2 linked regions of the Homo sapiens genome follow. The protein of the gene in region 2 purifies or fractionates together with the protein of the main gene of each other region. This does not show direct contact. Each region holds a gene or a part of one and is shown on either strand. Other genes may lie near its edges. The genes, in order: MLLT11 and TRIL.

What was found.
Region 1: the proteins of TRIL (region 2) and MLLT11 purify together in Homo sapiens (co-immunoprecipitation; one study listed by IntAct). This does not show direct contact.

The regions. Positions count from the first base shown.
Region 1 is NC_000001.11:151,066,595-151,070,226, reverse strand, and holds the end of MLLT11 (protein AF1q), read right to left. Parts: intron 3,009-3,632; 5' UTR 3,003-3,008; coding exon 2,730-3,002; 3' UTR 683-2,729; downstream 1-682. UniProt on the Homo sapiens protein: Cofactor for the transcription factor TCF7. Involved in regulation of lymphoid development by driving multipotent hematopoietic progenitor cells towards a T cell fate.
Region 2 is NC_000007.14:28,955,513-28,959,920, reverse strand, and holds the start of TRIL (TLR4 interactor with leucine rich repeats precursor), read left to right. Parts: upstream 1-1,590; 5' UTR 1,591-1,874; coding exon 1,875-4,310; 3' UTR 4,311-4,408. UniProt on the Homo sapiens protein: Component of the TLR4 signaling complex. Mediates the innate immune response to bacterial lipopolysaccharide (LPS) leading to cytokine secretion.

The sequences.
Region 1 (3,632 bases), on a different chromosome or scaffold from region 2:
GAAACAAATAACTGAGTCATTTCTTTTCTTTCTTTCTTTTTTTTTTTTGAGACGGAGTCTCGCTCTGTCGCCCAGGCTGGAGTGCAGTGGCTCGATCTCGGCTCGCTGCATGCTCCGTCTCCCGGGCTCACGCCATTCTCCTGCCTCAGCCTCCGGAGTAGCTGGGACTGCAGGCGCCCGCCACCACGCCCGGAGATTTTTTTGTATTTTTAGTGGAGACGGGGTTTCACCGTGTTAGCTAGGATGGTCTCGATCTCCTGACATCGTGATCCACCCGCCTCGGCCTCCCAAAGTGCTGGGATTACAGGCGTGACCCACCGCGCGCGGCCTTTTTTTTTTGAGACGGAGTCTCGCTTCGTCCGTCGCCCAGGCTGAAGTGCAGTGGCGTGACCTCGGTTCGCTGCAACCTCTGCCTCCCGGGTTCAAGTGATTGTCCTGCCTCAGCCTCCCCAGCAGCTGGGATTACAGGCGTCCGCCACCACGCTGGGCTAATTTTTGTATTTTTAGTAGAGATGGGGTTTTATTTTACCATGTTGGCCAGGCTGGTCTCGAACTCCTGACCTCAAGTGATTGGCCCGCCTCGGCCTCCCGAAGTGCTGGGATTACAGGCGTGAGCCACCGCGCCCGGCCTGAGTCATTTCTTTTTGGAGGCCTGCAAGAGGATGGAGCATGAGTTTGCAAATCCATTTAGTCACTTTATTTACCAAACAGTTGATCCCTGTCTCCACCCACCAATTGCCATGGCTGAAGGACTCTGAAGGGGCCCTTCAAAACTCAGTAAAAATAGAAAAGGACGCACTACTTATCCTTCCTGGCCCCATTCTTCGTTAGACTGGGACCGTCTTTAGATGTGGGCTTTTCATGGCCTAGAGGGAGGATTTGTCTTTTTTTCTCCCACCTGGGGACTTCTCTAGATCATCCTTATTTAGGGTATAGTGTCATCCTTATTTATAGTACACTGCCCAATTCTGTCCTATCCATATTGGTATTTACAGTTTCTCTTTTGAGAGTTGGAGTCTTGTCTCATTCCCGTTTACATTCTGTTTGGCTCAGTGCTTTCCTATAGCAGGCACACAAAAACCAGAAGTTAAGCAGATAACATATTTGAGTGAATTCGTTTATCTTCTTAGGCACCTAGGAGAATTATTACCTGAAATATAATGTTGGTAGTCAGTGGGCAAGCAGAAGAGTGGTTGTACCTGTCTCCCTAACTACTTTTCTAATTTTAAGTTGATTTTGCCCTTTCATTATCTGTTCAATGCGAAGTTCACCATCTAATGTCTAAATGCTACTCAAATCATTCTTCCTCTAAGTTGAATATTATTATAGAAAGATAAAATGAGGCCGGGCTCAGTGGCTCACGCCTGTAATCTCAGCACTTTGAGAGGCTAAGGCGGGCAGATCACCTGAGGTCAGGAGTTAGAGACCAGCCTGGCCAACATGGTGAAACCCCGTCTCTATGAAAAATACAAAAATTAACCAGGCCTGGTGGCAGGCGCCTGTAATCCCAGCTACCTGGGAGCCTGAGGTGGGAGGATCCCTTGACCCTGGTGGGTGGAGGTTGCAGTGAGCGGTGATCCCCGCCACTGCACTCCAGCCTGGGTGACAGAGTGGGACCCTGTCTCAAAAATAAAAAAGAAAAAAAAGATGTATAAGCTAAGTGTGAAAGCAAGGCTAATTTCTCAGATTTCTGTGGCTTTTCTTGTGAAGAGAGAAAATTAGACTCCAGTCCTGGGATTGAATGTCTTTATTAAATAAACGAGTAAATGGTAGCACAAATCACCATCAATATTTTTGGAAGGATTGGGGACAAGATGTCGAGTCAGAATATAATTGTTCATTTCAGGGTCTCAATGTAGCTGAAGAACTGTGCCCACTGATCAGTATTACGTATTGCAAATGCAGGAGGTAAGGCTAAAATAGGACTTATGCCGTTCAGAAGATTGAATTGAAACCTTAAAAACTATCATAATAGTAGGAATGCATGTTAAGATTTGATAACTTTCTTTAGCTAGAGTTTTCAACCCACAGTTAGGAGCAAAGTTGTAAAGTGAGTAGGTGTGAAGAAGGGACACTCTTTTGAGAAAAGAAATTAGCTACTTCTAAAATGATTCAATTATTTTCCCTATTTTCATTTTCCATAATATTTCCTCCTGTTTTATACCTCTAACTACCCTCCTGATTTCTCTGAGGAAAAAAAAGAATATAAGAGCAGGATCAAAAAAAAGCAAGAGACTTATCACTTTAGCCTTTTAGAAATACTGTTTCGTAGCAGATAACCTCAAATTAAAACTTCCGAGGTTTTCATCACCCCTTGAAGAAATATTTGTGTTTACTGCCCTGGAGCAGGAAATTAGGAAGGTTTAAGGAATCTCTGAAGCTGATTATAATAGAGTCAAAAATCAGTCTTCCATTTTGCACTACTATACTACTCTCAGGTGTCCCCAGTCAGGCCTAGTTTCTGGAGTTAATATTTGGGGGGGAAAGGAGGAATCCCTGTGACCCAGTACTCCATTGCTTGAACCATTTACTTTGTGACTTGAGGGCTTTTGAGAGAAATGGAGTAGACAGATAGATAAATAAATACATAGAACTCAACTCTGGCAGATTCATCAGCACCACCAACACAGTAGGGAGAGAACAAGATTAAAATGGGAAAGGAGTGGAAAGGAAGGGGCTTGAGAGGGAAGACAATGAGGGCAAGGTGATGGGAGAGAGAAGTCTTGGCCTTAGAGCAAGTCCAGTTCGAAGGAGTGGATGCTGGCAATGGGAGCTCTCCAGAAGTTGAAGGTGCTGTACTCAAGGAGGCCATCACCTTCAGGGTTTTTCTCCTGGTCTGCTGCAGTTGCTTGCCCGATCATTTTGCCAACGCTGCTGTCTTTGACCTTGTAGGTGGCTGTATCTGACAGACCCAGGCCTTCCAGCTCCGACAGATCCAGTTCTGGGATGGGCATCCTCCAGAAAAGAAAGGAACTGTACTGGCTACTCACAGGGTCCCTCATAGCTTCCTAGAAAGAAACCACTTGTCAGTCTTCATGCTACAGCAACTTCTTTGTGGCCCATGGCCTTTCCTTGCTTAGATACTCCACATACTGGTAAAAAGGAATTTCTTTTTTTTTTTTTTTTCTATTAAAGAAAGAAAATTGTATATCCTCCAATCCCACCAGTAAAAAGGAATTTGGGGAGGAAAAAAAAGAAACTCACCATCCCCAATTGCCTCTGGAGAGAATCCAAGTTCCCTTGGACAAGCTTCAGAAACCCTTTATTATGAATTTCTACTTTTTTTTTTTTTTTCTCTCAATGAGACGGAGTCTTGCTCTGTCGCCCAGGCTGGAGTGCAGTGGCACGATCTTGGCTCACTGCAAGCTCCACCTCCTGGGCTCACACCATTCTCCTGCCTCAGCCTCCCGAGTATCTGGGACTACAGGTGCCCACCACCACGCCCGGCCAATGTTTTGTATTTTTTAGTAGAGACGGGGTTTCACCATGTTAGCCAGGATGGTCTCGATCTCCTGACCTCGTGATCTGCCTGCTTCGGCCTCCCAAAGTGCTGGGATTACAGGTGTGAGCCACCGCGCCCGGCCGAATTTCTACTATTTTCTAAACTTCCCATCTTGGAATGACTTATTTAC
Region 2 (4,408 bases):
CATTGTGACAAGGGCCTGTTAGTCCCAGCTATTAGGGAAGCTGAGGTGGGCAGATCACTTGAGCCCTGGAGGTCATGGCTGCATTGAACGGAGATTATGCCACTGCACTCCAGCCTGGGCAACAGAGTGAGATCCCACCTCAAAAAAAATAATTTTTGTTTTTGTGGTGTTCTCTATTACTGCCTTATATTATTATCTAACCTTTCAATGCATTCATTGCCCTTCCCACTAGATTGTCATTGTCTTCAGGTGAGGATCTGTATCTTTCCTTTAATTTTCCACATTGTTGCAGAGTACGTCCTCAAAACTTACGTTTTCTCAACACCTTGGATAGGGGAAGGGCCCTTATTTTTTAGCAAGATGGTTTATATAAAGAAACAATAATTAATAATTAACAACTCCTCCTTGTGTATTCTCATTCTCAGCAGGGGCTGATCCCAAAGGAGCCGTTGATTAAATGCTCCATTCCCTAGAGATAATAAATAATAATGCTTCCCCAACTGAGCCAGGCCTGAACATTTTTGGGCCTAAAGACTTTGAAGATCACTGCAAGTCCAGGCGTAAAGCAGGAGGGCCCTGCAAGGAACGTTTACCTTAGGATCTGTGAAGGTTATTATGTATGTGCACACGAGCAGAGCCTACCCCAGGGGCTCTATTACTGTAGGAGAGTTAATGCGACTGAATCACCAAAATGTGGCAGAGACACTTTCATGTTGGCAGAACCAGTTCTGTGATTTCTTCATGTTCTAGCCCACAGCAGGATGGAGTAAATACTCCCTTCAGACACCTAAAAGGGGGTGGTGCCTCTCCTCAGCTACTAGTCCAACGACGTCAAAACCCAAGCAGCAACTGTCAGACTGGGTTCACCTACCCCCTTCTGATGGCCTTCTGCAGGCAACCTTGTGCTCCCCCAAACTTCCTGTAGAATGCTGGCGGACTCCGTGCTGCCCAAACTTCCCGCAGGGTGGCACCTGGAAGAGCAAGTGACTTAACAACGAGGAAGGCCAGGCGCGCTCCCACTGCTCAGAAGCGGCTGGTGTACTCGTCTAAAATAAAAAGGTCTCTGTCTGCAAATCCCGTTTGCTAGCCCGGTAATCCTCCCCCGCCCCCGGCCTAGCGTGTCCGGCCCGTACAGCTGTTTTTAATCCCTACTTTTCTCACTTGGCATCCCGGGCCCGGGCTGACCAGACGCGGAGCCACTTAGTGTTTCCTCCTCCCCCTGCCGGGGTCTGTCCTCCCTCTGCCGTCTCCTCTTTCTCCGCCTGCGTCCCCGCGGGCAGAGTGTGGGAAGAACGAATTTCCGCCCCGTTTGCTCTCCGCTCGCAGACTTGGGTCCCTTCCGGACGCAGCCCGCGTGCTCCCCGAGCTATTGCACTGGAGCCGCCCTCCCCGTCCGGGACCGCGAGCGAGAAGGTGCCGTCTGCGGGGGCCGAGCAGCCGGGGCTCTGCTGCCAAGCCGCGCCCCGCGAAGCTCTTGGAACGGCTCCCGCCTGCAGCTGGGGAATCCACTCGGCTGGGAGAATCCGCGCCAGGGAATCCAGCTCTCCGGACTCAGCTGCAAACAAAAAGCGCCGGGTCTTGCTCCCTCCTCCCGCCCGCCGACGCGCACCCGGAGAAACAGTTTTATACAGAAATGCAACAAGTAGTACCCGGGGTCTGCAGAGCGCCCCGCGCCGCCTGACTTGGCCGGGCGAAGCCCGCCTGCAGAGACCCGGGCCGGCCTCCGGACAAAGGACGGAGGAGGGGCTGGACGGCGCTGCGAAGTCCGAAAGAGGCCATTTAGCGACTCTGGCCAGGCTAAGGGGAATGCAGAGGAGACACAGAGCCGGCGGGCCAAGAGGACGATCCGGCCGCTGCACGCAGGGCGGGAGGCGATGGAGGCTGCCCGCGCCTTGCGCCTCCTGCTCGTGGTGTGCGGCTGCCTCGCGCTCCCGCCGCTGGCCGAGCCCGTGTGCCCGGAGCGCTGCGACTGCCAGCATCCCCAGCATCTCCTGTGCACCAACAGGGGGCTCCGCGTAGTGCCCAAGACCAGCTCGCTGCCGAGCCCCCACGACGTGCTCACCTACAGCCTCGGCGGCAACTTCATAACCAACATCACGGCCTTCGACTTCCACCGTCTGGGGCAGCTCAGACGGCTGGACCTGCAGTACAACCAGATCCGCTCTCTGCACCCCAAGACCTTCGAGAAGCTCTCGCGGCTGGAAGAGCTGTACCTGGGGAACAACCTCTTGCAGGCGCTCGCCCCGGGCACGCTGGCCCCGCTGCGCAAGCTGCGCATCCTCTACGCCAACGGGAACGAGATCAGCCGCCTAAGCCGCGGCTCCTTCGAGGGCCTGGAGAGTCTAGTCAAGCTGCGGCTGGACGGGAACGCCCTGGGGGCGCTGCCGGACGCGGTCTTCGCTCCCTTGGGCAACCTGCTCTACCTACATCTGGAGTCCAACCGGATCCGCTTTCTGGGCAAGAACGCCTTCGCCCAGCTAGGCAAGCTGCGCTTCCTCAACCTCTCTGCCAACGAGCTACAGCCCTCCCTGCGCCACGCGGCCACCTTCGCACCGCTGCGCTCCCTCTCCTCCCTCATCCTCTCGGCCAACAACCTGCAGCACCTCGGGCCGCGCATCTTCCAGCACCTGCCACGTCTCGGCCTGCTCTCGCTCAGGGGCAACCAGCTCACGCACCTCGCGCCTGAGGCCTTTTGGGGCTTGGAGGCCCTGCGCGAGCTGCGCCTGGAGGGTAATCGGCTGAGCCAGCTGCCAACTGCGCTGCTGGAGCCTCTGCACAGCCTGGAGGCGCTGGACCTGAGCGGCAATGAGCTGTCCGCCCTGCACCCGGCCACCTTCGGCCACCTGGGCCGGCTGCGCGAGCTCAGCCTGCGCAACAACGCGCTCAGCGCCCTATCCGGGGACATCTTCGCCGCCAGCCCAGCCCTTTATCGGCTGGATCTAGACGGCAACGGCTGGACCTGCGACTGCCGGCTGCGAGGCCTGAAGCGCTGGATGGGCGACTGGCACTCGCAGGGCCGGCTCCTCACTGTCTTCGTGCAGTGTCGCCACCCCCCGGCCCTGCGAGGCAAATACCTGGATTACCTGGATGACCAGCAGCTGCAAAATGGATCCTGCGCGGATCCCTCGCCCTCAGCTTCCCTGACCGCTGACCGCAGGCGGCAGCCCCTACCCACGGCCGCAGGGGAGGAGATGACGCCACCTGCAGGTCTCGCGGAGGAGCTGCCGCCGCAGCCGCAGCTCCAGCAGCAGGGGCGATTTCTAGCTGGGGTGGCCTGGGATGGGGCCGCCAGGGAGCTGGTAGGCAACCGCAGCGCCCTAAGGCTGAGTCGGCGGGGCCCGGGCCTCCAGCAGCCCAGCCCCTCCGTCGCTGCCGCCGCGGGCCCGGCTCCACAGTCCCTAGACCTGCACAAGAAGCCCCAGCGGGGCCGTCCGACTCGGGCAGATCCCGCCCTCGCGGAGCCCACCCCAACGGCCTCTCCTGGCTCTGCGCCATCGCCCGCCGGCGACCCCTGGCAGCGCGCGACGAAGCATCGTCTGGGCACGGAGCACCAGGAGCGTGCCGCCCAGTCCGACGGTGGGGCCGGGCTGCCGCCGCTGGTGTCCGACCCATGCGACTTCAACAAGTTCATTCTGTGCAACCTGACGGTGGAGGCGGTGGGCGCAGACAGCGCCTCGGTGCGCTGGGCCGTGCGCGAGCACCGCAGTCCCCGGCCGCTGGGCGGCGCGCGCTTCCGCCTGCTCTTTGACCGCTTTGGCCAGCAGCCCAAGTTCCACCGCTTCGTCTACCTGCCTGAGAGCAGCGACTCGGCCACGCTGCGCGAGCTGCGCGGGGACACCCCCTACCTGGTGTGCGTGGAGGGCGTGCTTGGGGGCCGTGTCTGCCCTGTGGCTCCCCGGGACCACTGCGCGGGGCTGGTCACCCTACCGGAGGCCGGGAGCCGGGGCGGCGTCGACTACCAGCTGCTGACCTTGGCCCTGCTGACGGTCAACGCGCTGCTGGTGCTCCTGGCCTTGGCGGCCTGGGCGTCTCGCTGGCTGCGTAGGAAACTGCGGGCTAGGCGGAAGGGCGGGGCCCCGGTCCACGTTCGGCACATGTACTCCACCCGACGGCCCCTGCGCTCCATGGGCACCGGCGTGTCCGCCGACTTCTCGGGATTCCAGTCGCACCGGCCACGCACCACCGTGTGCGCGCTCAGTGAGGCGGACCTCATCGAATTCCCCTGCGACCGCTTCATGGACAGTGCGGGCGGCGGCGCGGGCGGCAGCCTGAGACGGGAGGACCGTCTCCTGCAGCGATTTGCCGACTAGGTCCAGGGCATATAGAGACCATCTCATTGGCCCTAAGGAGCCGCCTCTCCGTGAGGCCCACCAGCCCACCTCAGGGGAAGTGCCGTTTTGTGCACTTG